3 separate regions of the Homo sapiens genome follow, and regions 1 and 3 are each linked to region 2. The links come from fine-mapping of genetic effects on plasma protein levels. A gene starts in region 2. Each other region holds a variant in brackets. All regions are shown on one strand. Distances are between the middles of the regions.

What was found. PIP is the chance, under the fine-mapping model, that this variant and not a neighbour inherited with it causes the effect. Protein levels are from antibody-based Olink assays in UK Biobank. Linkage for the fine-mapping came from a reference panel and not from the study's own genotypes, which makes the PIPs less certain.
Region 1: its variant is fine-mapped to the plasma level of the FLT4 protein (UK Biobank, PIP above 0.99). The variant lies in the coding sequence of FLT4. If it changes the protein, the assay may bind it differently, which can mimic a change of level.
Region 3: its variant is fine-mapped to the plasma level of the FLT4 protein (UK Biobank, PIP above 0.99). The variant lies in the coding sequence of FLT4. If it changes the protein, the assay may bind it differently, which can mimic a change of level.

What each region holds. Positions count from the first base shown.
Region 1 is chr5:180,619,547-180,622,522 of GRCh38, forward strand. It overlaps FLT4 (fms related receptor tyrosine kinase 4), which reads right to left. Exons shown (of 30, transcript NM_182925.5): 13 at 1,996-2,358; 14 at 1,560-1,706; 15 at 1,330-1,461; 16 at 1,063-1,169; 17 at 627-762; 18 at 119-223. Among named protein-coding and RNA genes, the nearest start is that of FLT4, 29 kb to the right of the region's middle. RefSeq lists an enhancer at 285-1,484. The variant G/A (reference allele first, on the strand shown) is at 2,095.
Region 2 is chr5:180,644,412-180,656,818 of GRCh38, forward strand. It overlaps FLT4 (fms related receptor tyrosine kinase 4), which reads right to left and starts at 5,189. Exons shown (of 30, transcript NM_182925.5): 1 at 5,077-5,189. The coding sequence starts at 5,134. RefSeq lists an enhancer at 1,088-1,753.
Region 3 is chr5:180,596,827-180,609,233 of GRCh38, forward strand. FLT4 (fms related receptor tyrosine kinase 4) reads right to left here. Exons shown (of 30, transcript NM_182925.5): 29 at 12,142-12,227; 30 at 4,680-6,564. The coding sequence ends at 6,366. Among named protein-coding and RNA genes, the nearest start is that of SCGB3A1, 12 kb to the left of the region's middle. RefSeq lists a silencer at 1-58 and an enhancer at 5,752-6,252. The variant C/A (reference allele first, on the strand shown) is at 6,487.

The sequences.
Region 1 (2,976 bases), 30 kb before region 2:
CTCGGATGAGACTGGCTTCCAGCCTCAGTCTCCCTTCCCGAGTTGCCGTCCCACCGGCCCACCCCGAGCTGCTGCTCCTCACCAGCTAGGCTGCCCCTTCCGCCCGCTGACCCCACACCTTTCAGCATTTTCACGGCCACGGTGTCACAGCTGCTGCCCTTGTGGATGCCGAAAGCGGAGGCTTCCACCACCTTCCCGAAGGCGCCGTAGCCGAGCACTCTCCCTGTCGGGGCAGGGGGCCAGTTGCAGGTGAGCTGTACGGGGTGAGCGTGGAGACAGGTGGGCGGCGGGGGAGCCCCGTGCAGAGGTCCAGGAGGACAGGCCTGGCAGCAGGAGGAGCGTGGGGAGCCACAGCGGGAAGACAAGGAGAGGTGGACAGGAGGCCGCGCATCCTCCCGGGTAGGTGTGACAGATACACCCTGCTCAGGGTGGCAGCAGGTGACCTCAGGGAGCCTGGGAACTGGGGACCCTGGCTGAGGTTCTAGGTACCCACGCCCACAGGGACAGGTCAGGCCAGGCGGAACTTCCTGGTGCAAGTTTTGAAAATGGAGGGATTCAGGCACTCCGGCCTGCAGCAGGTGGGTCGGGCAGGAGGTGTGGGTTGGGCAGGCTGGTGCTGGCCTCACCCAGGTGCAGCCGCTCTCGGGGGAATTCCCACTGGCTGGCATCGTAGGACAGGTATTCGCATTGCTCCTCCAGAGGCACCTCCCCGGGGTCCATGATGATGGACAGGTAGCCCGTCTTGATGTCTGCGTGGGCCGGCTGCGGGGAGGGGACAGGGAGGAGTGGGGCAGCTCACTGATTTGGCCATACCACTGTGGCTTGGGCAGAACTTTGCCCAGGACAGATGGCACTTCCTGCGGGGTTCTCAGTCAAGGAGGGGACAGAAAAAAAGACAGACAACCTCTGCGGGGTTGGAGCCCAGCGTGAAGGGCAGGGAGGCTTCCCAGGAAACAAGGCTGCCAGGTGAACTAGGGCGGGCACCTTATTCTTTATCTTAGGGGCGGCCAGGGTGGGGAAGGCCTGAGAGAGACTCCATCAGGAGCGGGGAGGGACACTCACCCTCCTCATGTTACAGAAGATGAGGAGGAGGAGGACCCAGAAGAAGACAGCGATGACGCCGGTACCGACAAGGATCACGATCTCCATGCTGCCCTTATCCTCGGAGCCTGCGTGGGCAGAAAGGGGCCGGCGTGTGTGTGTGTGTGTGTAAGAGCGTGCACCTGCAGGCAGCACCCCTTCTGGTGGCCACGACTTGCCCAAGGTGGCCACAAGAAAGCGTTAACTGGGGACGGGAAGGGAGTTGAGGGGTGCAGCCTGAGGCCAGACCTTCCACGGCCACGCTGGCGGAGGAGTTGACGCAGCCCTTGGCGTTGCACACGCTGCACAGATAGCGTCCCGCATCCTCCTCGCGCACGCGCTGGATGCTCAGCTTCTGGTTGGAGTCCGCCAAGTCGACTCCTGCAGGGGGTGGGGTGGAGGTGCGGGTCCACCTGGGTTTGGGATCGTCGGCCTCGCGGGCCTCCGGACCTGCCCTTCGCCAGGGCCACCCTCCCTACCAGACTTTTCCTCCAGCAGCCTCTCGTCTTTGTACCACACGATGCTGGGCGCGTGCGCTCCGGCCACCAAGCACTGCATCTCCAGCGAGTCGCTCACGTTCACCAGGAGGTCGGTCAAGTTCTGCGTGAGCCGAGGGGCTTCCAGGGCTGGGGGCAGGGGTCGAGAGGGAGCTAAGTGGAGCTGCACTTAGCAGGAGGACCCTCTTTGGGCTGGGAGCAGAGGTAGAAAAGGATCCCTGGAAGCTGGACTTAGGGGTTGTGCGCCGGGCAGGAGCGCGGCGCGCCTCCGCAGGGGGCGGCGGATAGTCAGGAGGGGTAGCTCCTGCAGGCCAGGGCTGTGAATAGACCTCCCAGGGGCGAGCCACGCCGGGGCAAAGGCAGAGGCAGCTACTGCTAGAAGAGAGCGCGTCCCCGCCCTCCCCGCGGCCAGCCTCACCCTGCACCGACAGGTACTTCTTGTGGCAGTGCTTGTCATGGCTGCGCCGGTCTTGCACTTCGCACACATAGTGGCCCTCGTGCTCGGGCGCGACGCGGG[G/A]GATACTCAGGCTGAGCGTGGCGTGGCGCGCCCCAGGTGCCACCTCCTCCAGGCTGGCGGCCAGAGGGGTGGCGAACAGATGCACGTTCTTGCAGTCGAGCAGAAGCGGGTTCCCGTGCGCATCGTGCAGCGTGGACAGGTTGAGGCGGTACCAGCGCAGATGCTCGTACTTGTAGCTGTCGGCTTGGCAGCTCAGGAGCACCGGCTGGCCCTCTAGTAGCTCCTCGGATGGCTTGGATTCGATGGTGAAGCCGTCGGGGATGGCTGTGGAGGGAGGAAGAAGCCCTGTGGCACTGCCCTGGGAGTTTGCTCCCCCATCCACCTGCCGCCCCGGGGTCTCCTCCTGCCTCCCTCCCTCCCTCTCTCCTGGAGGGGCCCCAGCTGGACTGCTTGCCCCCCGCCCCACCAAAAGCCCAGGTCATCAGGAGTTCCTTGTCACCCTCAGTGGGACTTGAGTCCTCATTCTCTCTTGAAGCTTGCCATGCCCCACCCCATGCTCAGCCTGAAATAACGTGTTCCCTGGCTTTTCCCAGTGCCGTGCGCCCACTTCCTCTTGTCTCTCTGGTCACTTCTGGTCAGGCTCCTGTGGCCCCCCAGCCCCCGGGTGTTCTTTTGGGCTCCATCTCTCTGCTGGTGCCCTGATCTACATCTCTCTGCTGGTGCCCTGATCTACATTCTGGGACCCAGTGACGTCTGCTCCTGGGCTCCGCTCTCCTGAGGTCACTACCACATTTGAAAATCTGAGTAAACCACAGAGCTTCTCCCCAGAGCAAAATTCACACGAGTCACAAGGTCTCAGGGCTTGGGAAGGGGAGGGTGGGAGTGGGTATAGCTAGGAGGAGCTGCAGTGAGCCAAGGGCATCCTTGAGGGAGGAGCCCCAG
Region 2 (12,407 bases):
CATGAGGTGGTTAGAAATTGAAGAGTCCACCTGGCCAGCCCTCTAGGGCATTCCCTGGGGAATGTGGACAGTGGCCTGTGTGCCTGCCCCTTCTTTCCCGCTTGGCCCCCATGCTATTTGGAACCAGATGTCAGACACCTATTAACCCCCTGAAATGAGCCATCTATTATCTAGAGAGCCGTTTCACCCTTGTGGCCTGAATTTCCTAATCTCCAAAATAAGCATAATAAGGTCTGCGTGACGAGGTTAAAACCTGTACGTGCCCTGCTGTGAAGCAATCTGAGAAACCATTTCACACGGAGGTGTGGCCCACTGCCGGACACGCCACATCTGTGTGCATGTGCCGGTGCACGCTTGCTGCTTAAAACAAATCAATCTCCATTTGGTAGAATTTAGAGTAGCTTCGAGGACAGTGTGTTGAGTTGGGTGATGATGGGGGCTTCCCCTAAACCCACCTGAAAGTCTGAGGCACACTGTGAGCGGGAACGAAGCCATCACCTGCCCCGGAAGGCCCCTTCCGCTTGGAGCAGCACCGTCTGCCCGGAGTTCCCAGCAGTCTCCCAAAGGGCACGTCCAGGGTGGGCGAAAGGCCATGGTGCTGGGGCTGGTGTGTGCAGTGGGTGGAGGCTGGGTGGACGCGGGGCTAGGGATGGCCTGGGACTCCAGCAGGAAGGGCCGGTACCACGAGCCCAAGAAGCTGGTGCTTATCTTGTGGGTGAGTTGGGGGGGGCCCTGAAGGCTCATTTACAGCAGTCCCTTTGGGGCAGAATGGAGACAAATTTCTGGAAGATGCTGGAAACAGGGAGTGGTGATGAGGTTGAGAAGGGCTGGACCTGCGGGGAGCGTGGGCTGCCTGAGTGCCCCGTGGGGGTGGAGACCAGGAGGAGGGGGCCTGAGCAGATGCTAAGCTCCCAGCACACGGCCGCCGTGGGGCAGCCAGCTATGCCAGGCAGTTTCCCCGGCTTCCGTGGGGTCAAGGCTCTGCTTGCTGGCCGGCAGGACGAGCGGCGTTATCAGACAACCCAGCTGGCGCAGAGGTGGCCCCCCAGTGCTGCTAAATCGGGGCCACCAGCTCCTGCCGCAGGAAGAGGGAAATGCAGGCAGGATGTCCTCTCCTGTGGCCGACAAGTCCTTTCCCATGAACCCCTGCTGACCTCGCCGGCCACGTGGCGGGCCTCCCCTACTCACCACCTGGATCTACCCAGGCCTGGCCGTGGGCTAGGGTGGTGCGGGCCTCAGACAGGGCCGGGGGTGTGCCTGCTGTTACCCCGTCCAGCCCGGCCAGGGCTGGCGCCCTGCTCCTCCTCCGGGAATGAATGCCCGCATCTTCCTGCTCCCAGACCTGTCTCCTCAGTGTGACCGGAAAACCCAGATTCCAGAGGAAGCCAGTGTCTGAAAAGGATCGAAACTCAGGAATCCCTGGCTCCAGCTGGACACACTGACTGAATCTTGCTCAGAGTCTAGGGGGTGTGAGAGGCTCTCCAGACCCCTCTCCCTGCCCACCCCCAACTCCGAGGGGCATCTCAGAGGGACGTGGGGCACAGGCTAGGCCTTGGTGGAGAGAAAACTGCCCTGTGGAGGAAAATACGGCAGCAGGAGGGGAGTAAGCCAGACACAGAGAAGCACCTCCCCTTGCAGCTGATTCGCTTAATTTCCCTGGTTCCCCCATTCCCCTCTGTCCCATCATACTCAAGTGCTCCCAACTTTCCTCCCTCCTTATCTGGCCGGGTGCATCAGCTGAGGTCTCCGAGGAAATCCCATTGCCTACCTCCACCCAAGGTCCTGCTCCTCTCCCAGGGTCTCCCTTTGATAAATTATCCTTGAAGCCAGAGACCTGGGACTTCCTCTGTCCCCACCATCCCCAGCTGCTACCTGCCTCCACCCCAGTTTATCCCCTGGGTTATCCACTTGCAGTTCCTGTCTCCCCTGGACACCAGCCTCCTTGCTGCTGGCACTGCCGCATCTCCAGCCTCGTTTCCCCTACCTCCCATCCACTCCTCCCAGACTCCAGCCTCACCGGACCACCCACTTGGCCACATTCACCATCTGGACTTGCCTGTCTCTGGGGCTTCATGGGGTTCTTTGCTCTGCTTGGAATTCCCTGTCCTGGAGTTCTGCAGACCCCACCAGGAAGCCCTTAGCTGGAAGTGACACTGCCTTCCTGTGCAGCTTACAGCCACCAGCTGGGCCTCACCAGGGCCCCTGAACACTTTCATCCCTGGGCAATACACGTCTGATGGCATGTCTGTGTCCCTGCAAGGCACAGGAAACCCCTGTGCGATGGGGCCAGGTCCAAGTCCTCCCTGGGCCACCCCGAACAGGCACTATGCTGGGGTCTTGCATAGAACTGCAGGCTCCTTCCCTGGGTCGGGGTGCCACTGCTGGGGGTTACAGTGAAGAATTCGCCAGACAGACCACACATCACACCTCGTACCCTGTCTGGGCCCAGCCATGTGGGCCCTATGCTCTGGGAGGGCTCAGGACTCCTTCAGCCACACTGGCTCTGTGCCATAGGCCTGGTGGATGAGGGAACAGCACCTGCATTCGAGTCCTCAGAGCCCTGAGCTGGAGCAGAAGGTCCCCAGGCCCAAGTAAAGTGGGCCTGATCCCCACATCCTGCCTGCAGTGACTTGCATCCCTGGGCCACACATCTGTCCACATCTGGGCCTTTGTGACCCAGGTCACAGCAAGGGCAAACGTCCTGAGACCAGGCCACTCCAGATGCCCAGCAGACCCTGCTCCTGCATGTCCCTGAGCTGGTAGCCACAGTGCAGAGGTGCCAATGGCCTCTCTCTAGACTAAGCCCCAAGAGACATCTGTGACCTACCCTCTCCACTGGGGCAAGACTGTGGAACTGCAGCAGGCATCTGGGTCTTGGAGTCCAGCCCAAGCACACACAACCCACACAACCTCGGGGCTTGCCAGCTTGTGCCATGGCTATGCTTGTGCCATGGCTATGCTTGTGCCATGGCTATGCTTGGGGAAACTGAGGTGCAGGGAGGGGAAAGGAGGGGGCCCAGGTCACACAGAAAGGACTTTACGGCAGAGGCAGGACAAGAGTCTGGTTCTATGATCAATAGCACACTTTTAAGGGGTCAGCTTCAGGATGCTCAGGCTTCTGGCCTGCTCCCACCGGACCAGCTGCCCTGACACCCGACTGCAGCTCCCACCGGACCAGCTGCCCTGACACCCGACTGCAGCTGAGGGCTTGTGCTTCCGCCATGGCATCCCCCATCAAGCTGGGGGCTCCCGGGGTCTTCAGCCTAGCAGGGGGTACAGCAAGGTGCAGGGCTCACGGAGGGATGACCTCTGTCTTCATTGCCATCTCCCCACCAGCCAAACCCAGGTCCAGCCCAGGACACCCCTCTCCATGGGGCGCCCAACTAATGCCCTCTCTCCTCTTCATAACTGGGTCACTAAGAGTCACTACTTACTGCAGGGAATAGCTTCCTCACCCTTCACCCCACGTCCCTCTGTGCTCCACCCGGGAGCACCAGGACACTGGCCTCTCCTGGTTCTCCTTATACCTGCAGAATGTTCCCTGGATCCCTGGAAGCCCCCTTGCCCTCTGGGCCCCTCCTCCAGGGTTCCCCTCCCGGGTCTCTCTCTTCCTCTCCAGCTACTCAGCCCAGCTCAGACACTGCGCCCAGGTGCCTGTCCCATGTCTCCTCCAGGATAAGCGTCTCCCATTCTACAGCCCTGCAGTCCAACCAAGGTCTACCAGCCACTCGACAAATACATCCTGAGCACCTGTGGGAGCCTGGTCCTGGGCTGGGTCCAGGAGGGCCAAGGGCAGCGCCCTGATCTGGCCTGCCCGACTCGGAGGCCCAGATAGATGTTCTCCTCCCTCCTCCCCTGGTTGAGCCAGACCTGCCCCCTCTCCTGTCCTCTGCCCTTCAGCCAGTGGACATACAGGTGGTGAGCAAAGGCAGGCTTTGTCAGGCTTACTTTGGGCCTCCTGGGGACCTTGGGGAAGTGACACATGTCCTTGGTCTAAGCTTCTCCATGTGTAAAATGGGTCTGACACTCCCTGTGAGAATTACAAGCATGTAAAGCCAGTATTTAATTCCTATGGCGTGCAGAAATGTTGAGGTCCCCGTCGCTGACTTCAGGGCTTCAGACACTGGAACCCCTGACCCCGCCCTTACACCCTTTGATTTCCAGGGACACCAGCTCCGTGGGGACTCCCAGCTCATCTTCTCAGCTTCCTCCCTGACATCTCCATCCACTCCCTCTGCCGCCCGCTCATCCCCCACAGTCCCTCTTTCCAACCCCTCCGCCTCCGCTTCAGGTCTGCGTCTCTCCCCGCCAGAGCCACATCCCAACACAAACCGAACCCCGCCTCTCCTGTGCAGGGGACCCTCCCGCGGGGGCCTCTGCTCCTCAGCTGGCCTTCGAGGCCCCTGTCCCCTCAAATCCGGGGACCCCTGGCCTTCCGCCCCTTCTGCGGCGCTGACAGCCCGCGATTCGCCTCCTCAAGATTCGTCTCAAGTGCCAGCGTGCACCTGCACCCGTCCGCCTCGGGCGCGCGGTGGTCCCCGGCCCCTGTCCCCGCCGTCGCCGGCCACGGGGAGGGGGAAGCCCGCCTCGAGCGCCCTCTGGGGGACCGACCGCGAGCGGAGGCGCTGGGCGTCGGGAAGTGCGCACCCAAGTCCGGGGCCCGGCCGGGATGGATCTCCGGCGCGCGTGGGTCGGGACGGCGCGGCGCGGGGACCCCGCGGGGAAGCGAGTAAGGGCGCGAAGGATCCGGGCTCAGCGCGCAGCCCGGCAGGGCCCGGCTCCGAGGACGCGGAGCCACCGACGGAGACGCGGATTCAGGGGCCGGGAGAGCTACCCCTGCGCCGAGGCGCGGCCCGGCCGCCCTGGCCCTGACCCGGCTGCGGTCCCCGCCCGCCCCTTCCTCATCCCGAGGTCCCGCGCCCCAAGCGCCGTGCTCCCCTCAGGCGTCCGCGCACCAGGGCCACCGTGTCCCCCGCCCGTACCCGGCGGAGCGGTCTCAGCGCCCGCCCCAGGTGCGCGGTACCCCCTCCCCGGCCAGCCCCACGCTCGGGCGGGTGGCCCGTTCGCCGCGCTCACCGTCCAGGAGTCCCAGGCAGAGCCACAGTCGCAGGCACAGCGCGGCGCCCCGCTGCATCTCCGGCCGCTGCGCGTGGGTCCGACCCGAGCGGCCGCGGCTCGGGGCTGAAAGTGTCCGCGCGGGCGCCGGCTGGCCTGGGGCGGGGCGGGGCGGGGCGGGGGCCGGAGGCGGGCCCGGGATTCAGGCCGCTCCCCGCGCCCCCCTCCCCCCGTCCCTCCCAGCCCGCCGCGGGGCGTCCGGTGCACCCGAGCAGTGCGCGCTCCGCACCACAGGGTCCGGGCCCCCTCCTGGGCGGCTCCGGGCGCGGGGACGCGGGTAACGCAGACGGTCTCGCGATGCGCTCCGGAGGTGATGGAGCCTGGTGGGCAAAGGGGAGCAAAATGCGGCACGCGCTCTTTTCCGTCCTTTCTTTCCATCGGTAAAATCTAGACTAAACAAGAAAGCAATCCTTGTAAAAATAGTATGTTACATCTTTGAAAATAGTGGCACCAGCCGGCGTAACATAGGGAGACCCAGTCTCAAAAATAAACAAGCAAATAAATAAAATAATACGCCGAGCTTGGTTGTGCGCGCCTGTAATCCCAGCTTCTCGGGGGGGCTGAGGCAGGAGAATCGCTTGAACCCGGGAGAAGGAGGTTGCAGTGAGCCGAGATCGCGCCACTGCACTCCAGTCTGGGAGCCAAAAAAAAAAAAAAAAAAGCAAAAACAAAACCCGTTCAGCAGTGTTTACCTGCACAGTGTCGACGGACAGTGTCGACGGAAGCCGCACCCGTGAGCGGGACACCCGGGATGACCGACCCCCTCCCTGCAGGCCTGGCCTCCTAGCTTTAGAACTCCCCCAGATGTTTTGTTCTCAGCTCAATCAGGACCCGCCCCCACCTTTTTAATAAAGCGACACTTTGCTTTTGCTTTCTGACTTGGCAACCCTCTTACAGACTTCCGTTCTCTTTTCAGTTTGTCTCTAGAATTTTCCTGTTTAATAATGAAGCCCATGACCATGACTGTCTCAACCTCCTTCCCTGCTTTTCGTTTCATTCACATTTTCCATCCCCCCACCCCCGCCCCCCAAAGCCCTTTCATCCTCGCCAAAAAGCAAGAGTAGATTTTCAATAACCACTACCAGCTCTCTCCAATCCAGGTAAGAAGTGGCTATATTATTAAGCTGGAATCACAAATCAGTGCGGATAGTGTAGATAATTTAACAAATAAGGTTGGGGAAACTAGGTAACCAAGCGATACATGAAGTTAGGTATTTATCAATCATATATTGATTTTTTTTAGCTTTGAAAGATTATGAGATGTAACACACTTATGGAAAGTACATAATATATCAGCATATTATAAACCTGAATTTTAAAGCAACAAATACCTGTGTTTCCATTCTCCAGGCCAAGGGATGTAGAATGACATCCCCACATCCCCTCACTTCCCATCACAAACCCCTCACCAACCCCAGAAGATGCCCACTACCCTGGCATTATCATTTCCCTGCTTTTGTTTATCATTTTATCATCAAAATATATGTTTTGCTTTTTTTTTCAGAATGTACTTTTTTTTTTTTTTCTCAAAGTCTCTCTTTTGTTGCCCAGGCTGGAGTGCAGTGGGACGATCTCACTGCACTGCAATGCAACCTCTGCCTCCTGGGGTCAAGCAATTCTCCCGCCTCAGCCTCCTGAGTAGCTGTGATTCCAGGCACCCGGCACCATGCCCGGCTAATTTTTGTATTTTTAGTAGAGATGGGGGTTTAACCATGTTGACCAGGCTGGTCTCAAACTCCTGACTTCCTGATCTGCCAACCTCAGCCTCCCAAAGTGCTGGGATTATAGGCATGAGCCACTGTGCCCCGCCCAGAATATACTTGTTTTTTTTTTGTTGTTGTTGTTGTTTTAGACAGGGTCTCACTTTGTCACCCAGGCTGGAGTGCAGTGACATGATATCTGCTCACCGCAGCCTCAGCACCCCCCGGGCTCAAATGATCCTCCCACCTCAGCCTCCCAAGTAGCTGGGACCACAGATGTGCGCCACCACACCCAGTGACTTTTTTGCATAGCTGGGTTTTCGCCACGTTGCCCAAGCTGGTCTTGAACTCCTGGGCTCAAGTGATCCACCTGCCTCAGCCTCCCAGAATGCTGGGATGACAGGGATGAGCCGCCGCATCCAGCCAGAATGTGCTTTTAAAATTTTAAAGTATACTTAGAGGACATAAGTGCAGATTTCTTAATTCATATATTGTGTACAGGTGAAGTCTGGGCTTTTAGTGTACGCGTCACCTGTACAGTGGACACTCTACCCAAAAGGTGATTTTTCAGTCCTTACCTCTTGCCCTCCCTCCCTGCTTTTGGAGTCTCCAGTGTCTATTACTCCTCTCTGTGTGTTTGTGTCCCTACAGTTTAGCTCACATTTTGCTTGTTGTTTTTTTTTTCCACTTTATCTCAGTGCCTTCATACCATTTATATTCTTTTGCTCAACACCATTAGTGAGATTCATCTATATTGCTGTGATGATCTATACTTTGCTCATTTTCGTAACTGCATAGTTTTCCACAGTAGGATACACCACAATTTGTCCATCTACTATTAATGGAAGTTTGAGTGGTTACCAGTTTCCAACTTTTGCCACAACACTCTTGTATGTGTTTCCTGGTGTACACATGCTGTCTTCAACTTTGGTAGCCAGTGCCAAGTATTTTTTCAAGTGATTTGTACCATTTTGCATGATCATGGCAGCGTAAGCAGTTACCGCTGCCGCACACCTTTACCCACAGTATTGTCAGTTTTGGTTTTTAAAATGTGGCCATTCTAGTTGGTTTGCATTGGCATCTCATTGCGGTTTCATTAGCTATTTTTTTTTTTTTTTTTTTTTTTTGAGACAGAGCCTTGCTCTGTTCCCAGGCTGGAGTGCAATGGCGCGATCCTGGCTCGCTGCAACTTCCACCTCCCAGGTTCAAGCAATTCTCCTGCCTCAGCCCCTGGAGAAGCTGGGATTACAGGCATACGCCACCATGCCCAGCTAATTTTTGTATTTTTAGTGGAGACGGGATTTCACCATGTTAGCCATGCTGGCCTCAAACTCCTGACCTCGGGTAATCCACCCGCCTCAGTCACCCGAAGTGCTGGGATTAACGGAGGTGAGCCACCATGCCTGATCTATTAGCTTTTCCTTAATTACCATTGCGGTTGAGCACATTTTTATAATTGGCCATTTAGATTTCAAGTCTTTTGCTCTTTACGACTCCCCATCTGTCTTTTTCTTATTGATTTGTAGTTCTTTATATATTCTGCATATGAGTCTTTTATCAGTTCCTTTATTATTGCTGTATAATGAAGTACTCCAAGATGTTGTGGGGCAAAGCAGCAGCTATTTCGTTTTGCTCATGCTTTTGAGAGTCAGGAATTTGACAAGGGCTTACTTAGCTGGGTTGGATGCCTGGTGGTCGGTGCTGGCTGTTGTCCAGAAGCTCAGCTGGGGCTGCCAACCAGTGCGCCCATTCGGTGTCTTTCCAGCATGACAATCCCACATTAGTTGAAGTTCTTGTGTAGCAGGTGGCTTCCCCAGAGTGACTATCCAAGAGAACTAGGTGGAAACTAGATAGTCTCGAAGAAGTCACAGCCTGCCTAGGGGACATGTTCCCCACAATTATTAGAGAGAGGCAAGGTCACATGCAGAAGAGCATGTGGGATGGCAGACACTGCCAAGGCCATCTGTGGAAAAGGAACTTGGGTACATTGTGCTACACATCTCCTCTCATTCGGGGTCTGAATTTTCACTTCCGTAATGCTCTCTTTTTGGGAGGCAGGATGAAGACAGAAGATTTTCATTTTAACACAGCACGCTTACAAATTGGTTTCCTTATGGCTGGTGTTACTTGTGTTATCTCATTATTTTATTACTATTATTTTTTGTTTGCGATGGAGCCGTGCTCTGTTGCCCAGGCTGGAGTGCAGTGGCAAGATCTCGGTTCACTGCAACCTCCGCCTCCCGGGTTCAAGCGATTCTCCTGCCTCAGCCTCCCGAGTAGCTGGGACTACATGCGTGTGCCACCATGCCTGGCTAAATTTTGTATTTTTAGTAGAGATGGGGTTTCGTCATGTTGGCCAGGCTGGTCATGAACTCTTGACCTCAGGTGATCCGCCCACCTCGGCCTCCCAAAGTGCTGGGATTACAGGCGTGAGCCACTGCGCCCGGCCTTGTGTTCTTTTAAAGAAACCTTTATCTTGATGTCATGAAGATATTTACTATTTTTTATCACTTATAAATTTTAATGTTTTATTTTCTCTTTCATATTTAGACCTGCGGGCCCTGGAATTGCCTTCTCTGTGTAGCGTAAAGTAGGTGCATGTGTCGAGTTTCTGTCTTTCACCCCGTAAAGATATCTTGCTACTGGCCGGGCGCTGTGGCTCACGCCTGTAATCCCAGCACTCTGGGAGGCCGAGGTGGGCAGATCACGAGGTCAGGAGATCGAGACCATCCTAGCGAACATGGTGAAACCCCGTCTCTACCAAAAAATACAAAAAAGTTAGCTAGGTGTGGTGGCGGAGGCCTGTAGTCCCAGCTACTCGGGAGGCTGAGGCAGGAGGATGGCGTGAACCTGGGAGGCGGAGCTTGCAGTGAGCAGAGATTGCACCACTGCACTCCAGCCTGGGTCACGGAGTGAGAGTCCGTCTCAAAAAAAAAAAAAAAAAAGGTATCTTGCTATCTCATGACCATGATGAGAAGGTCATGCTTTCTACACTTTTCTCTAGCTCCCCCTCAGTCATACATTAACGATCTACACGGAATGGTTCATTTTCTCAGCTTTGTCTATTTTTGTACTGATACTGTCACCAAAACATCACAGGTTCCGTCTAGGTCCGGCCGCCCACCATACAGAAAGCCAATGACAGAGGAGACAAGTATTGTCAAGGAGGAACGTTTTAATCAGGTGCTGTGGCTGACAAATCCATCTCCCTGACCAACTAAAACCAGGGCTTTACATAGCAAGGAAGAAATGAAACAATGTGTAACAAAACAAAAACTAAGGAGGGGCAAGGAAGCAGTCATGATGAATGAACGGTCCAGCATCATTGTCTGGATGTGGAGATCTGGCGATTCTCAGTTCTTTGATACTTTATTTTTTTATTTTTTTAGAGGACTGAAGGTTGTTTCCTGAGGAAGGAACTCAGCTAAAACAAACTTAAGGTTCAAGCTTTAAGACCAGAAGCGTCCATTTCTACATTTATCCAAAAAAACTATCTATGGGACTATTGAGTCGGTTTCAATAGTACCATATCTTCATTATCTTAGTTATATAAAAATCTACATATCTGGAAGCGTAAGTCCTTCCAACCTGTTCCTCAAAAGTGACTTTGGAATTTTTCACAAGTTGAATTTTCATTTAAATTTTAGACTTATTTTTAATCAGCTTCCACACATACATGATATGCTGGGATTTTGATTAGAGTTACAATTAGCCTATGACCAATTTGGGGCAAACCAACTTTCTTTTAATCCATAAACATGGAATATCTCTTCGTTTTTATTTTTAATATATATGATGGTTAATATTGAGTGTCAACTTGATTGGATTGAAGGATGCAAAGTATTGTTCCTGGGCGTGTCTGAGGGTGTTGCCAAAGGAGATGAACATTTGAGTCAGTGGGCTGGGAGAGGCAGACCCACCCTCAGTCTGGGTGAGCACCATCTAATCAACTGCCAGCACGGCTAGAACAAAGCAGGCAGAAGAACGTGGAAGGACTGAAAGAATGTACTTTTTTTTTTGAGACAGAGTTTCGCTCTTGTTGCCCAGGCTGGAGTGCAGTGGCGCGATCTTGGTTCACCGCAACCTCTGCCTCCCGGGTTCAAGTGATTCTCCTGCCTCAGCCTCGTGAGTAGCTGGGATCACAGGCACGCACCACCACACCCGGCTAATTTTGTATTTTTCATAAAGATGGGGTTTCTCCATGTTGGTCAGGCTGGTCTCGAACTCCCGACCTCAGGTGATTCGCCCGCCTTGGCCTCCCAAATTGCTGGGATTACAGGCGTGAGCCACTGCGCCCAGCCTCGTCTGTATTTCTTAAATTAGTCTAGCTAATGGTTTGTCAGTTTCATTTATCTTGTCAAAAGAAAACTTTGTTTCGTTGATCTTTTAAAAAATTGTCTCTATTTTGTTTATTTTTGCTCTGATCTTTATTATGTCTTTCCTTTTTACTAATTTTGGGTCTGGTTTGCTCTTGTTTTTTTGAGGTGTACTTTTAGGTTGTTTATTTGAAATTTTTCTATTTTTTTGATGTAGGAGCTTATTGTTATAAACTTCCCTCTTAGTACTGCTTTTGCGGCAACCTTAGGTTTTGGTGTGTTTCAGTAAAATTTTAAATTACCCTCTTAATTTCTCCTTTGACCATTCAGGAACACGTCTAATTTCCACATATTTGTACAGTTTCCAAAATTCTCTTCTTACTGATTTTCTAGTTTTATTCCAGTGTGGTCAGCAAAGATACTTGATCTGATTTCAATTTGCTAGAATTTGTTGACACTTGTTTTGTGGCCTAAGATATGGTGTATCCTGGAGAATATTCTATGGGCTGATAAGAAGAATGTGTATTCGGTGAAACCCCGTCTCTACTAAAAATACAAAAAAAAAAAAAAAAAAATAGGGCGTGGTGGCAGGCGCCTGTAGTCCCAGCTACTCAGGAGGCTGAGGCAGGAGAATTGCTTGAACCCAGGAGGCAGAGCTTGCACTGAGCTGAGATCGCGCCACTGCACTCCAGTCTGGGCGACAAAGCGAGACTCTGTCTCAAAAAAAAAAAAAAAAAAAAAAAAGAATATGTATTCTGGCCAGAGGCGGTGGCTCATGTCTGTAATCCCAGCACTTTGGGAGGTTGAGGCGGGCGGATCATGAGGTCAGGAGTTCGAGACCAGCCTGGCCAACATGATGAAACCCCGTTTCTACTAAAGATACAAAAAATTAGCTGGGCGTGATGGCATGTGCCTGTAATCCCAGCTACTCAGGAGGCTGAGGCAAGAGAATTGCTTGAACCTGGGAGGCCACTGCACTCCAGCCTGGGCAACAGAGCGAGACTCTGTCTCAAAAAAAAAAAAAAAGTGTATTCTGCAGCTGTTGGATGAAACGTTCTGTAATATCAGTTATGTCCATTTGGTCTAGAGTATAGATTTAACTCCAGTGTTCTTTACTGATTTTCTCTTGGGATCGTCTGCCCACTGCTGGAAGTGGGGTGTTGAAGTCCCCTATTATCATCGGATTGCAGTCTGTTTCTCCCTTTAGATCTATTAATATTTGCTTTCTACATTTGAGTGCTCTGGTATTGGGTACATTTATATTTGTAATTGTGAT
Region 3 (12,407 bases), 48 kb before region 2:
CCTCCCTCCTCATGGCTCGGCCCCGTGGGCCCTGGGGCGCTCAGCACCCCCTCCTCAGCCCGCGTCCTCTTTCCTCATAGCTCAGCCCCGTGGGCCCTCGGGCACTGGGCAGTGTCGTGAGCATATCCGAGCGCCCTCTGTGGCACCGTCCCTGGGTCAATATTGATCTGGCTCTCAGCCACTTCCTTTTGCCCCTTCCCTGTCGGCACTCCCACCCACAGGGCCCTGCTGTGCGGAGGGGAGCAGGTGCTGTCGATGTGGTTCCTGCCTTGTGGGTTCAGGGCATTGGTGAAAGTGACAGAAAAGCTGACCCACGTGGCTTTAAGCAAAGACTGAAATTCCAGGAGTGGCTCCGCCTTCAGGGAAAGGTTGATCCAGGCTCAAAGGATGTCACCAGGACCTCATACCTCATTCTTCCCTGCCATCTCTCAGCTCCTTTTTTTTTTTTTGAGATGGAGTCTTGCTCTGTTGCCCAAGGTGGAGTGCAGTGGTGCAATCTCGGCTCACTGCAACCTCTGACCCCAAGTTCAAGCGATTCTCCTGCCTCAGCCTTCTGAGTAGCTGGGATTACAGGCGCCCGACACCATGCCCGCCTAATTTTTGTATTTTCAGTACAGCCAGGGTTTCATCGTGTTAGCCAGGATGGTCTCGATCTCCTGACCTCGTGATCTGCCTGCCTCGGCCTCCCAAAGTGCTGGGATTACAGGCGTGAGCCACCGCGCCCGGCCTCTCAGCTCCCATTTTTTAGAGTTGTCCTCCTTGGAGTGACAGGCTGGCAGCCAGCAGTGCCAAACCTCCGATACCAATTTGGGCCCAGGCACACAAGCGCTGGTGCTATCCCCAGGGCCCTCCCGTGAGGCTTCACCCCACTGCTCCAAGGACCGTGCTGGCCACAGCAGCAGCAGCAGAGGAAACATCGTGTCTCATTAGGTCCCACTTCCCTGCTTCAGTCTGTTCAGTGAGGAAGGAGGCTGAGGAAGGGGTGCTGGCAGGGATTCAGGAGGTGACCCTGGGCAGGGCTCCACACCTCTGTGTGCCCAGCAGCACTCCCTGTCCTCCCCACCCCAATACCATTCCATTGAGGAAAGCACTTCAGTCCCCAGAGCCCCACCGTGTCCAGGGACTGAAGTGGTTTCCTGCGTGGAATGGCACTGGGGTGAGACGGGCATTATCACCCTCACGATTTAGAAGAAACACAGCTCAGAGAACGTCAGTGACCGGCCTGCAGTCCCCTGGCAGTCTGAGATGGGTCTGCACGGTGCCCAGGCCATGCTCTTCACACGCCCATTGACCCGGAAGGCACAGCGTCCTGTGCTGCCTCCACGTGCCAGGGCTGGGAGCAGCCAGGCAGGGGTGAGAGTTGGGGGGTCAGACCCAGGGGAGGCCCCAGCCCAGACTCCAGGCCAAGATCCCACCATGGCAGAGATGCACTTGCTGCCGTCCCAAAGCAAGGCCCCTTCCGAGCGTTCCCTTCCGTTACTGCTGCCTCTCCGTGGAGACTGGCTGATGACTTCCAGGTACCCGGCTGTCCCTAGGGGAGGCCATGTCCTTCTCAGGGGAGCTGCCTCCTTCCAGGGCCGGGCAGTCCTGTGTGGCCCTGCTGCCCACAAGCCAGCTGTGATGGAGCTCCTGGCAGTGCCTCAGAGCAGCCAGGGATGGGCGGGACCCTGGGAGCTGCCCGGCTGACTCCACCCCTGTGTGCCACAGAGGGGCAGCCCAGGCTGCCAAGGATGCTGCCCCCAGGCGTGTTCCAAATCCCTTAATCCTCTCTCTCTGTGGCCGCTCTGGGCTCCCCATCAAGCCCTAGTTCAGCCCCCACATCCTCTAGCCTCCCGGCCCACCATCAGCTTTATGGCACCCTTGGCCACTCGTGGCTCGGGTGGAAAGTTTAGGAGTTTCTGCTTCCCTCTTTGGATGCGCCCCTGAGGGGAAGGTGGTGTCCCCCACTGGGCCCAGGAAGGGGAAACGGTCCCCTCTCCTCGCGGTGGTGGCTGCAGCCAGTTACTCCTCCAGAGCAGAACAAGGGTGGGGGGAGTGTGGGGGCGCTTGCTGACCTCAGACACCGCCCAGTTTGCCCTCAGGAGGGATGCATTTCCCCTGTGCACAGCGCTTTGAGGCTGGGCTCACATTTCTTTCTTACAGTCCTGGAAGCTGGGAAGGCCAAGATCAAGGCGCAGGCAGATCGGGGGTCTGGTGAGGGGCTTCCTGGTTTCCTGACAGCTGACTTCTCACACGGTGGAAAGAGGGCTACGGAGCTCTCTGGCCTCCTCTTGTAAGGACACTAATCCCATTCCCAGGGGCTCCACCCTCATGACCTGCTCACCTCCCAAGGGCCCCACCTCCTAACGCCATCACACTGGGAGTAGGGTTTCAACATGTACATTTCAGGAGGACACAAACCTTCAGTCCATCGGGCATATGGGGGACGGGTGGGAGCACGTGTTAGCTGGTGCATGGGTGGGTGGGTGAGTCAAGGGGGGCTCATAGGCCCCTGTTCACACCACTTGGTCGGAAGGGGGCTTTTACCTGGGTGTGGTCACCCCCAGCACCACTGGGGCCTTATGACTTTTATCACCAAAGCTCTACAAGGTGGCAGTCATGAATGAGAAACTGAGGCTCCGAGGGGAGGTGCTGGGCTCAGGCTCACCAGCTGCAGGGTGCCACATCTCATACCCCATCCTCCGCTCCCAGCCCTGAGGAGCCCTCAGAGCCCAGCCTGTCCCAGGCTCTCTGCCCAGTGGCAGAGGAGACCCAGGCCTCATTTGGTGGTTGCCAAAGGCACAAAGGCAGTCCCCGCTCAGTGATGCTATGGTCCCCTCCCTGAATCCACATGCAGAGATCAGGGCTGGAGATGGCCCCAGTGACCTGGGGACTGGCCAGCACCTTGGACACTGTGGCTGATTATCTGGGCTAAGCACACAGCTTCAAGAGTCTACCTGGAAGCTAGGCACAGTGAGCCCCGTAGTCCCAGCTACTCAGGAGGCCGAGGCGAGAGGATCATGTGAGCACGGGAGGTTGAGGCTGCAGTGAGCTATGATTGCACCACTGCACTCCAGCCTGGGTGACAGAGTGAAACTTCGTCTCAAAAAAAAAAAAAAGTTGATTTGGGCCCACTGGGGTGGAGTGGCCTGGGAGTGGTAATGGGGTGAGGATGGGGTCAGGGGAAATGAGAGGGAGGGAGCCGGTGTTGGTGCTGGAAGCTGCTTTTTGGGTTCCCTCCTCCCAAGCATAATGAGCATCTAGGGCGGGAGCTGTGTAGGGCCCTCCCGGGGGTCCCTCTGATCTCCTAGCCTGCCAGCACCCCTGCAGACCCCGCCAAGCTCCTTCAAGATCCCTCCTTCTCGGTGAAAGACGTCAGCCCTTCTCAGAATGCCCGTCTAGCCTTAAAATAAGAAACAGGCCCAACTCTGGACTCCCAGGCCCTAGGTCCCCTGTGGCCTCCTGTCCCACATCCCACTTCCCTCCCTCGCCTGTCCTTCTGGTCTTCCTCTTTGCTCTTCTTCACTCCTCACAGCAGGGGCTGCGGTTTGTGAGTTCCAACTCCAGGGCCTAGGACCACGTGTGGCTTTGAGCAGCCACCCGGGAGCTCTGCCTGCTGGATGCAAACGCCAGGGCCTGAGCACACCGAGAGGCACTGGGGACGTCAGCATAGAATCAACAGCATCAAAGGACATTCGGGCATGTCCTGGGCCCCAAACCTCCCCCAAGCAGGTGACGAAGGGCTCTTGGCAGAAATGAATAGAGTGAAGGGCTGGGGTGGAGGTGGGGAGGCATAGGCGGGCGGTGGCACCCAGAGAAGGGCTGGAGCCTGAGAGGAGAAGGTGAGAAGGTTCTTGGGAGGCAGAAGGGACCAAGGGGCCCTCGCAGTGCGAGCACGCTGTAGCCTGGTGTGACTCCTCCCTCCCCGCTCGCTGGCTGTCTCCATCCACACAGCCACTCCTGGAGTGAGTGGTGCTCTGGGGTGTGAAAGGGTGGCTGGGACCTGCAGGGACACTTGAGCCCAGCCCTTAAGGTCCAACCCAGGAAGTTCCAGAGGAGCCCGGAAGTGTGAGCGCAGCCCTGCTGGGAAATGGTACGGGATGGGAGCACAGAGGTGTTTCAGTTCCCAACACACAGGGGCATACTTTGGGCTTGGAGAGCCGCTCAGCCCTGGGCACGGGGGGACACCCTGTTGGTGGACACCTGGGTTGGCACATATGTCAAGGTCAGTGACTAAATTCAGTCAATTATAATGGAAAGCTAAAATATCCAAACCCAGCCTGGGCAATACAGTGAGACCTCATTTCTACAAACCAACCAACCAACCAAAACAAAAAAAAAGCGGCCGGGCGCGGTGGCTCACACCTGTAATTCCAGCACTTTTGGGAGGCTGAGGCCGGGAGTTCGAGCCCAGCCTGGCCAACATGGTGAAACCCCGTCTCTACTAAAAATACAAAAATTAGCTGGGCGTGGTGGCAGGTGCCTGTAATCCCAGCTACTCAGGAGGCTGAGGCAGAAGAATTGCTTGAAGACGGAGGTTCCAGTGAGCCGAGATCGCGCCACTGAACTCCAGCCTGGGGGAAAGAGCAAAACTGTCTCAAAAAAAAAAAAAAAAAAAAAAAAAAGCCCAATGTGGGGGCTGTTCTGTATTCCCATTTAGATTTATTACGGAAGCAAAAACAATAAAAGCAACACTCCCGTCCGCAACACACACAAAGACCGGCATCAGATTTATTATTATCTCTTGTTAAATATTTTCGATCTTTTCTCAGAACATGGTCTAGAAGGGCATAGTAGTTTTTTTCCCGGTACATGCGTGGGTGGGTAGTGAGGAGAAGGGAGCAGAGGTGCGCGCCAGGAGCCAGGCTGGTTCTCTGCAGAGAACAACCTCCAGATCCTCCCAGGGAAGCCTGACACGCCAGTCCCACGTTGGACGACGTGCAGAGGAAGGGGGAGGTCCACGGGGACGACGAAGATGACCTTATACGTGCACTCGGCATATCCTGGAGTAACGCGCAGTGGGGGAGGTGGGGAGGGGAGGGTCGGCCGGGCAAGCCCCTGCCCGCTGCGCGGCGCCTGTCCTGCAAGCGTCTGGTGCGTGGGTTTGGGGGGTCAGGGTGGTGGTCAGTCTCCGTGGTCCTAACGTGGGGATGTGGCTCTTTCTCCTGGTGAGATGGTTGGGCACTGTGAGCTGGGATAGGGGTCCTGAGCAGAATGCCTCCAGCCTTCAGGGGATCTCTCGGCTGCTCCTCTGGGAGGGCGGCATTCTGACCAGCCAGGGTGCTGATGTCAGGCACAGGGCAGGAAAAGGCTGAAGGCAGGTCCCCAGAATGTCCACTGAGTGCTGGGTGGCACAGGGCAATGCTGGGTGGTCCTTTGTGCCAGCCCCGAGCCTTCCTGAGTGGATCCCACAGTGTTCATCTCTCATGAGCTGGTTCACGGCTTGGGAGGGGCCGCAGGTGGCAGATCCGGGCTCTAAAGGGAAGAACCAGACCGGCAGCTCCAGACCCAGGCTCCTCGGAGTCTGGGCCAGGTGGGAGAGCAAGGGCCTTCTCCAGAGGCACTGACTGCTCTGCTGGCCTTGACCTGGGGCGGGGGTCAGAGTCATCTAGACTCAGTACAGCTGTCCCTGGGCGCCTTCCAGGCTGAATTCGGAAAGCAAATTCTTCTCAGCAGCTCTAACAGTCTGTGAAGTTCTGTTGAAAAAGACTTGCAGGATGGCTCTCAACACCCAGGCGCAGGTGTGCGGGCTGCCTCTGTGTTGCCAGCGTATAATACTGTCATACTGGTGGCCACCCCAGGGGCTAGTTGGCTGTTTGGTCAGGCCCAGAAGAGGACCCTGCAAATGCCTTCTTTGAGATGGAAACACAGCCCCTCCCTTCAACTGTGCAGGGGTGGGTGAGGCCAGCCAGCCCTCGTGGGGAGAGTAGCTGTGTGCCTGAGGAGGAAAGGGCGTTTGGGAGACCTCTGCTCTCGTATGCCTTAACCTCCAACACTGTGTGACTCCCAGACCCACAGATTCCTCGTGGGAAAACAGGGACCAGGCCACCACCCAGTGTGATGAAAGGAGGTCGCCAAAGAGACATTCCCATGGAAGTGCTGGCCCCGGGACCAGCACCTGCGGATGCTGAACTAAATGACATCTGAATCTCAGGGGGAGGGGCCGGGGCAGCTGGAGCGTGGCCCTGGCCAGTCGTGGTGACGGAATTCCGGGAGCCTTGGGCCTGGAGTCCTGCTCTTCCTAGCTGGGAAGTCTGCAGAGAGGGAAGAGGACACTCCTGTGCCACCAGAGTTCAACCAGATGAGTTCCCAGCCTGGGCCTCCAGCCCTCTGCCCGCCCTGCCGGGCCTGAACCCCCAAGTGCTGGGGGTCTTGTCCGATGCTGCTTAGTAGCTGTTGTCTGTGAAGAAAGTCACGCGGGCAGACGGGGAGCAGTGGTCCTCCTCGCTTGGCTCCGACAGCTCCCCATACTCGCTGTTGTAAAACACCTGGCCTCCTCGGGCCCCC[C/A]GCTCAGGCCGCCGCCGCCTCCCTTGGGAGTCAGGGTGTGCCCTGGTCACAGCCACATTCTGGCCAGGTCCTTTACAGCTGCCAAGACAGGGAAGGTGGTGTTAGTAAGAGAAGAAGGCTGGGTGGCGGGTGGTGCATACTGGTAATCCCAGTACTTGGGAGGCCTAGGCAGGCGGATGGCTTCAGGCCAGGAGTTAGAGTCCAGCCCAGGCAACATGGGGAAACCCCGTCTCTACAAAAAATACAAAAATTAGCCAGGCATGGTGGTGCACGCCTGCGGTCCCAGCTAAGTGAAACAATTGCTTGAGGCCGGGTGCGGTGGCTCATGCCTGTAATCCCAGCACTTTGCTGGGAGACCGAGGCGGGCGGATCACGAGGTCAGGAGATCGAGACCATCCTGGCTAACACGGTGAAACCCCGTCTCTACTAAAAATACAAAACATTAGCCGGGCGTGGTGGCGGGCGCCTGTAGTCCCAGCTACTCGGGAGGCTGAGGCAGGAGAATGGCGTGAACCCGGGAGGCGGAGCTTGCAGTGAGCTGAGATCGCACCACTGCACTCCAGCCTGGGCGACAGAGTGAGACTCCATCTTAAAAAAAAAAAAAATTGCTTGAGCCCAGGAGGTGGAGGTTTCAGTGAGCCAAGATCGTGCCGCTGCACTCCAGCCTGGGTGACAAAGTGAGACCCTGTCTCAAAAACAAACTAACAAAAAACAAGGAGGGACTGGAGCCCTGTCAGGGTCTGATGGGAACCACCAAGGACACAGTGGAGCATGGCATGCGTTCAGACTTCAGAAAACACACACAGACTCGACTCAAACAGCAAAGCGGATCGATCTGATCCAGCACTCACTGGAGCTCTGTCCCTACCTAGCCTGGACCCGAGACTGTGAAGAATGTCCAACTTCATCCCCCAACCCAGTTCTCACTCTGTCTTGCCCATCTCAGTGAACGGCACCACCGTCCCCTCAGCCGCTCAAGCCAAGCACCCTGGGGTTCTCCTTGCTTCCTCCTTCCCCTCACTCTTCAAAGCCAATCCATCCAGAAGTCCTGTCCATTCTAACTCCAGGACACATCCGTGCATCTCCATTCCTGGCCCTCCTGCGGAGCCAGCTGTGTCCTTGCCGGCTCTGTGACATCCTCCCGCGGACTGCTGTGTGCTTCCACCCTGGCCTCCTGGTGGTCCACCCTTCAGAGAGGTCCTTCAAGTTACACTATGTCATTCTCCTCCTGACACGCCCTCCAACGGCTTCCCGTCACTCCACGAAGCAAATCCAGGCCTCTCGCCTTGACCTAGGGGGTGGTTTCTGCCCCTGCCCTCCTCTCTGCCTGCCCTATCATGCACCATCCTCAAGCGCTCACTTTCTTTGCATTTTTTGAAGATGTTGACTTCTTGTTTGGTGCTTTGCATGGTGCTACTGAAAACTCTTGACTGTAAGTTTAAAATATTAGTTCTTTTACTGTTTGCATTTTCTTCCTCTGGGACTCCCAATTTTATATATATTGTCTCTTTTCTATTCCTGTCACTTTCTGATCCTTTTGCCTCTTTTCAGTTTTGTTTTCCTCTTTTCACGTCCATCCTCTGTGTCTGGCACTATCAGTCTGCTCATACATATTGTCCCTGTGGTGCCCTGGTTTTAGAAAAGATTTATCGGGTTTTTTTCCCCCAAAATGGGGGCTTGCTGTGTTGCCCAGCCTGGAGTGCAGTGGCACGATCATGGCTCACTGCATCCTCGACCTTCTGGGCTCAAGCAACTCTCCCACCTCAGCCTGCTGAGCGGCTGCTACCACAGGCATGGGCCACCACACCCAGCTAATTTTTAAAATTACTATTTGTAGAGACAGCGTCTCATTCTGTTGCCCAGGTTGGTCTTGAACTCCGGGCCTCAAGTGATCCTCCTGCCTCAGCCTCCCAGTGTGCTGTGATTACAGGTGAGAGCTACTGCCTGGCCGAATCTATCTTTTATTTCGATTTCTTTCCTGAATTTAGTCTGCTGTCAGTTGTATCATCACATTGTCCGTCCATTTCTATCCTGAAATTTTGAATTTCAGATTCAACAAAACAAGCCACTGCTTGTTTCCTTATATGTTTAATTCATGTTGGAGCATTTTGCTCGTTTTCCTGTTTCTTTTGAACAATTGTCTACCGGGAAGTTTTAACTCTAATACTGTCTTATTCCTATAACTTTGTATGGAGGGTGCTTTTTTGGGGGTTCAGGATTATTCATGTTAGGATTTCCTACACCAGAAATAGCCACTTCTCCTGTGGATGGGACTAGGGATTTTGGTGGCATCCTACATTTCTTCACTTAAAAGTGCCACCTCAAACCCATATCTTTGGCATCTCAAGTTCCTTTGAGCACATTCTTCCTTCTGAAGGCTCATACACGTCCCGTATCATCCTGCCACCAGGGGCCAGCTAGTCTCTTACCCAGAAGAGCTAGGCCCTCCACTGGCTGCACGCAGCCATGCTGAGTGACCACAAGCCCAGTTTCCTGATCTCCTTCCACCCACAGATGCAGGTGAAAAGCCACATCTATAGGTACGGGCTCTGGCATCCTAAGTGGGTACTGAAGGGGCTGGATGATGTAACCCAGGAGTGAGGAGGTGAACCCCCATGGGGCGAGTGCCGACCAGTGGTTAACAGGAGACAGCGAAGGACTAGGCAGATAGATTCCTCCTTCTTCTCCCCACACCCCACCAAGGCACATTCTCTCCTTGCACCTGTTTGCACAGCATTCTGTATGCCAAGCGGATGCACCCGCCAGAGACCTGTGGCACCTTTTCTTGGCTCATTGTCGACAGAGGACAAAGAACAGTGCCCTCTGCTGCCGATACAGGGTGGTGCAGTTTCTCAAATGAACAAATCCATCATGTGTCTTCTTCTGACTTCTGGATACTATCTTGCTTCCTTAGGACCCATGTCTTCTGGAACTTTCTTCTTCCTCTACCACCAAGCATCCAAGGGGCTGCACTCCCTTCTGGCTCGCCGCCCTTTCAGAAGCAAGATGGCTGCCCAGTGCCTCGGGCTTGGCAAGGGAGCTCTCCTCGCAGCCCCATCTCCTCCGTCACCCCTGGGTCTGTGTTGCCACATCCCCAAGGACCTCGTCACACTCTCCTCTCACGGGACGGCCCTATCTGACTCTCCCACCATGGTGCAGGCTCAGCCGTGCGGGTCCTGGCGTTGAGTCCCCAACTCACGTTTCCACGGAGTCTGTCTCCTAGCTGAGCCACAGGCCTGGGCTGAGCGGCCTTCTTTGATCTCAAGGAGCTGTGCTGTTTCTCGAAGGTGTGTAGAGGTTTGAATTTACGTGGCGATCATTCTCTGTGACACCTTTTACTTAATTACCTTGTTTTTTGAATGTCGAAATGCTGTTTGGTGACGAAAAATTAGCCCAAAGCTATTTCCGTAAATGTGACCACCATTGATTTTCCAAAACCAGGTACTAACAGGAGTCACCTGATGAGCTGGGCGTGGTGGCTCATACCTGTAATCCCAGCACCCTGGGAGGCTGAGGGCAGATCACTTGAGGCCAGGAGTTCAAGACCAGCCTGGCCAACGTGGCGAAACCCCGTCTCTACTAAAAAAAAAAAAAAAAAAAAAACAAACAAACAAACTTAGCTGGGCGTGGTGGCACACGCCTATAATCCCAGCTACTCAAGAGGCTGAGGCAGGATAATCACGTGAACCCGGGAGGTGGAGGTTGCGGTGAGCCGAGATCGCACCACTGCACTCTAGCCTGGGTGACGGAGTGAGACTCTGTCTCAAAAAATAAAAATAAAAATAAAAATAAAATGAATCTTTTAAGCAGACACTGAAGTCTTTGTTTAAATCTATACCCTTAAAAGTTTCAACATTCAAAATGGCCAAAACTGTTTTTCCCCTGGCTGTCATGTTGGGCAAATGGAGTTCACTTTCTATCTGGGATATGTGGGTATTTCTCTGTTGCCAAAATACATCCCAGCCTGTGGGCGAAGGATCACCCAGGTGCTGAGGCAAGAGACTGAAGGCACAAACTGTTTCAGTATAATAAAGAAAACAGTGGCCGGGCGCGGTGGCTCAGGCCTGTAATCCCAGCACTTTGGGAGGCCGAGGGCGGGCGGATCACGAGGTCAGGAGATCGAGACCATCCTGGCTAACATGGCGAAACCCGGTCTCTACTAAAAAAAATACAAAACAATTAGCCGGGCGTGGTGGCGGGTGCCTGTAGTCCCAGCTACTCGGAAGGCTGAGGCAGGAGAATGGCGTGAACCCAGGAGGCGGAGGTTGCAGCGAGCAGAGATCGCACCACTGCACTCTAGCCTGGGAGACAGAGCGAGACTGTCTCAAAAAAAAAAAAATACATACATACATATATATATATAAAATAAAGAAAATAGAATAAGAATAGTCATAATACAAATTAGATAGAGAGATGATCATGGACATTATCAGTCATTAGTATAAACATGATTAATTAGCTTTTAATACTACTCTTTGATGTATTACTCATATTACCAAGGAATAACTGGTGGGCACAGGGTCAGGTGCTGAAGGGACATTGTGAGAAGTGACCTAGAAGGCAAGAGGTGAGCCCTCTGTCACGCTGGCATAAGGGCCGCTTGAGGGCTCTTTGGTCAAGCAGTAACGCCAGTGTCTGGGAAGGCACCTGTTACTCAGCAGACCATGAAAGGGCGTCTCCCTTTCCTTGGAGGAGTCAGGGAACACTCTGCTCCACCAGCTTCTTGTGGGAGGCTGGATATTATCCAGGCCTGCCCGCAGTCATCCGGAGGCCTAACCCCTCCCTGTGGTGCTTCAGTGGTCACACTCCTTGTCCACTTTCATGCTCCTCTTGTCCTCCTGGTTCCTCTTTGAAGTTTGTAGTAGATAGCAGTAGAAGAAATAGCGAAAGTCTTAAAGTCTTTGATCTTTCTTATAAGTGCAGAGAAGAAAATGCTGACGTATGCTGCCTTCTCTCTCTCTGCTTCAGCTACCTAAGAGGGAAGGGCCCCGTCCCATGATCATGTGACTTGCTTCACCTTATCAATCACTTGAACGACTCACCCTCCTGACCCTGCCCCCTTGTCTTGCATGCAATAAATATCAGCGTGCTCAGCCATTCGGGGCCACTACCGGTCTCCACGTCTTGATGGTAGGGGTCCCCCAGGCCCAGCTGTTTTCTCTTTATCTCTGTCTTGTGTCTTTCTTTCTTACGATCTCTTATCTCCACACACGGGGAGAACACCCGCTAAGCCCCACAGGGCCGGACCCTACACCAGCCAGTTCAGATTACAGTATCTACCCGGCTTCTGGAGCCACTGGGTGAAGTTCCGGGGTTCTGGGGCTGGGGTGGCCTCCCCAACCTGGAGGAGAGTGTGTGTGCCCTGGGCATGGTGGGTTACGTGTGGTGTCAGAAAGACACAGCATCTGAGCTCTGTCAGATGACAGGGAGGTGTCGGGACCAGCGCCCACGTGGCCAGCATGTGACAGGGAGGGGCTCCCGCGGTGCTGTAGGTCAGGAGGGGTCTCAGGCAGCTCACCTTGAACGCGCGAAAAGGCCATAGGGAGCCACGAAAGGTTCCGGGAAGAGGGCTGGGCACACCCAGACCCCAGCCTCCCTCCTCCAGGGGAGGGCAACATCGATACCTGCAGTGCAGGAGGCTCACGAAGCCCTTACCTGAAGCCGCTTTCTTGTCTATGCCTGCTCTCTATCTGCTCAAACTCCTCCGAGGCCAGCACCATCCCACTGTCTGTCTGGTTGTCCTGTGTGGAGAGGACAAGCCAGGCTGTGGGTCCCGCCTGAGGCCCTCCTGCAGGGCAGCCACCCCCAGCCAGGAAAGTGCGGCATGGTCCTGCAGCGCGGCTGACCTAACACCTGTCCCTGGGAAGCTGAGCCAGAAACAAGGCGTCCATTCCATCCCAGGGTGAGGGTCACATGCCCCT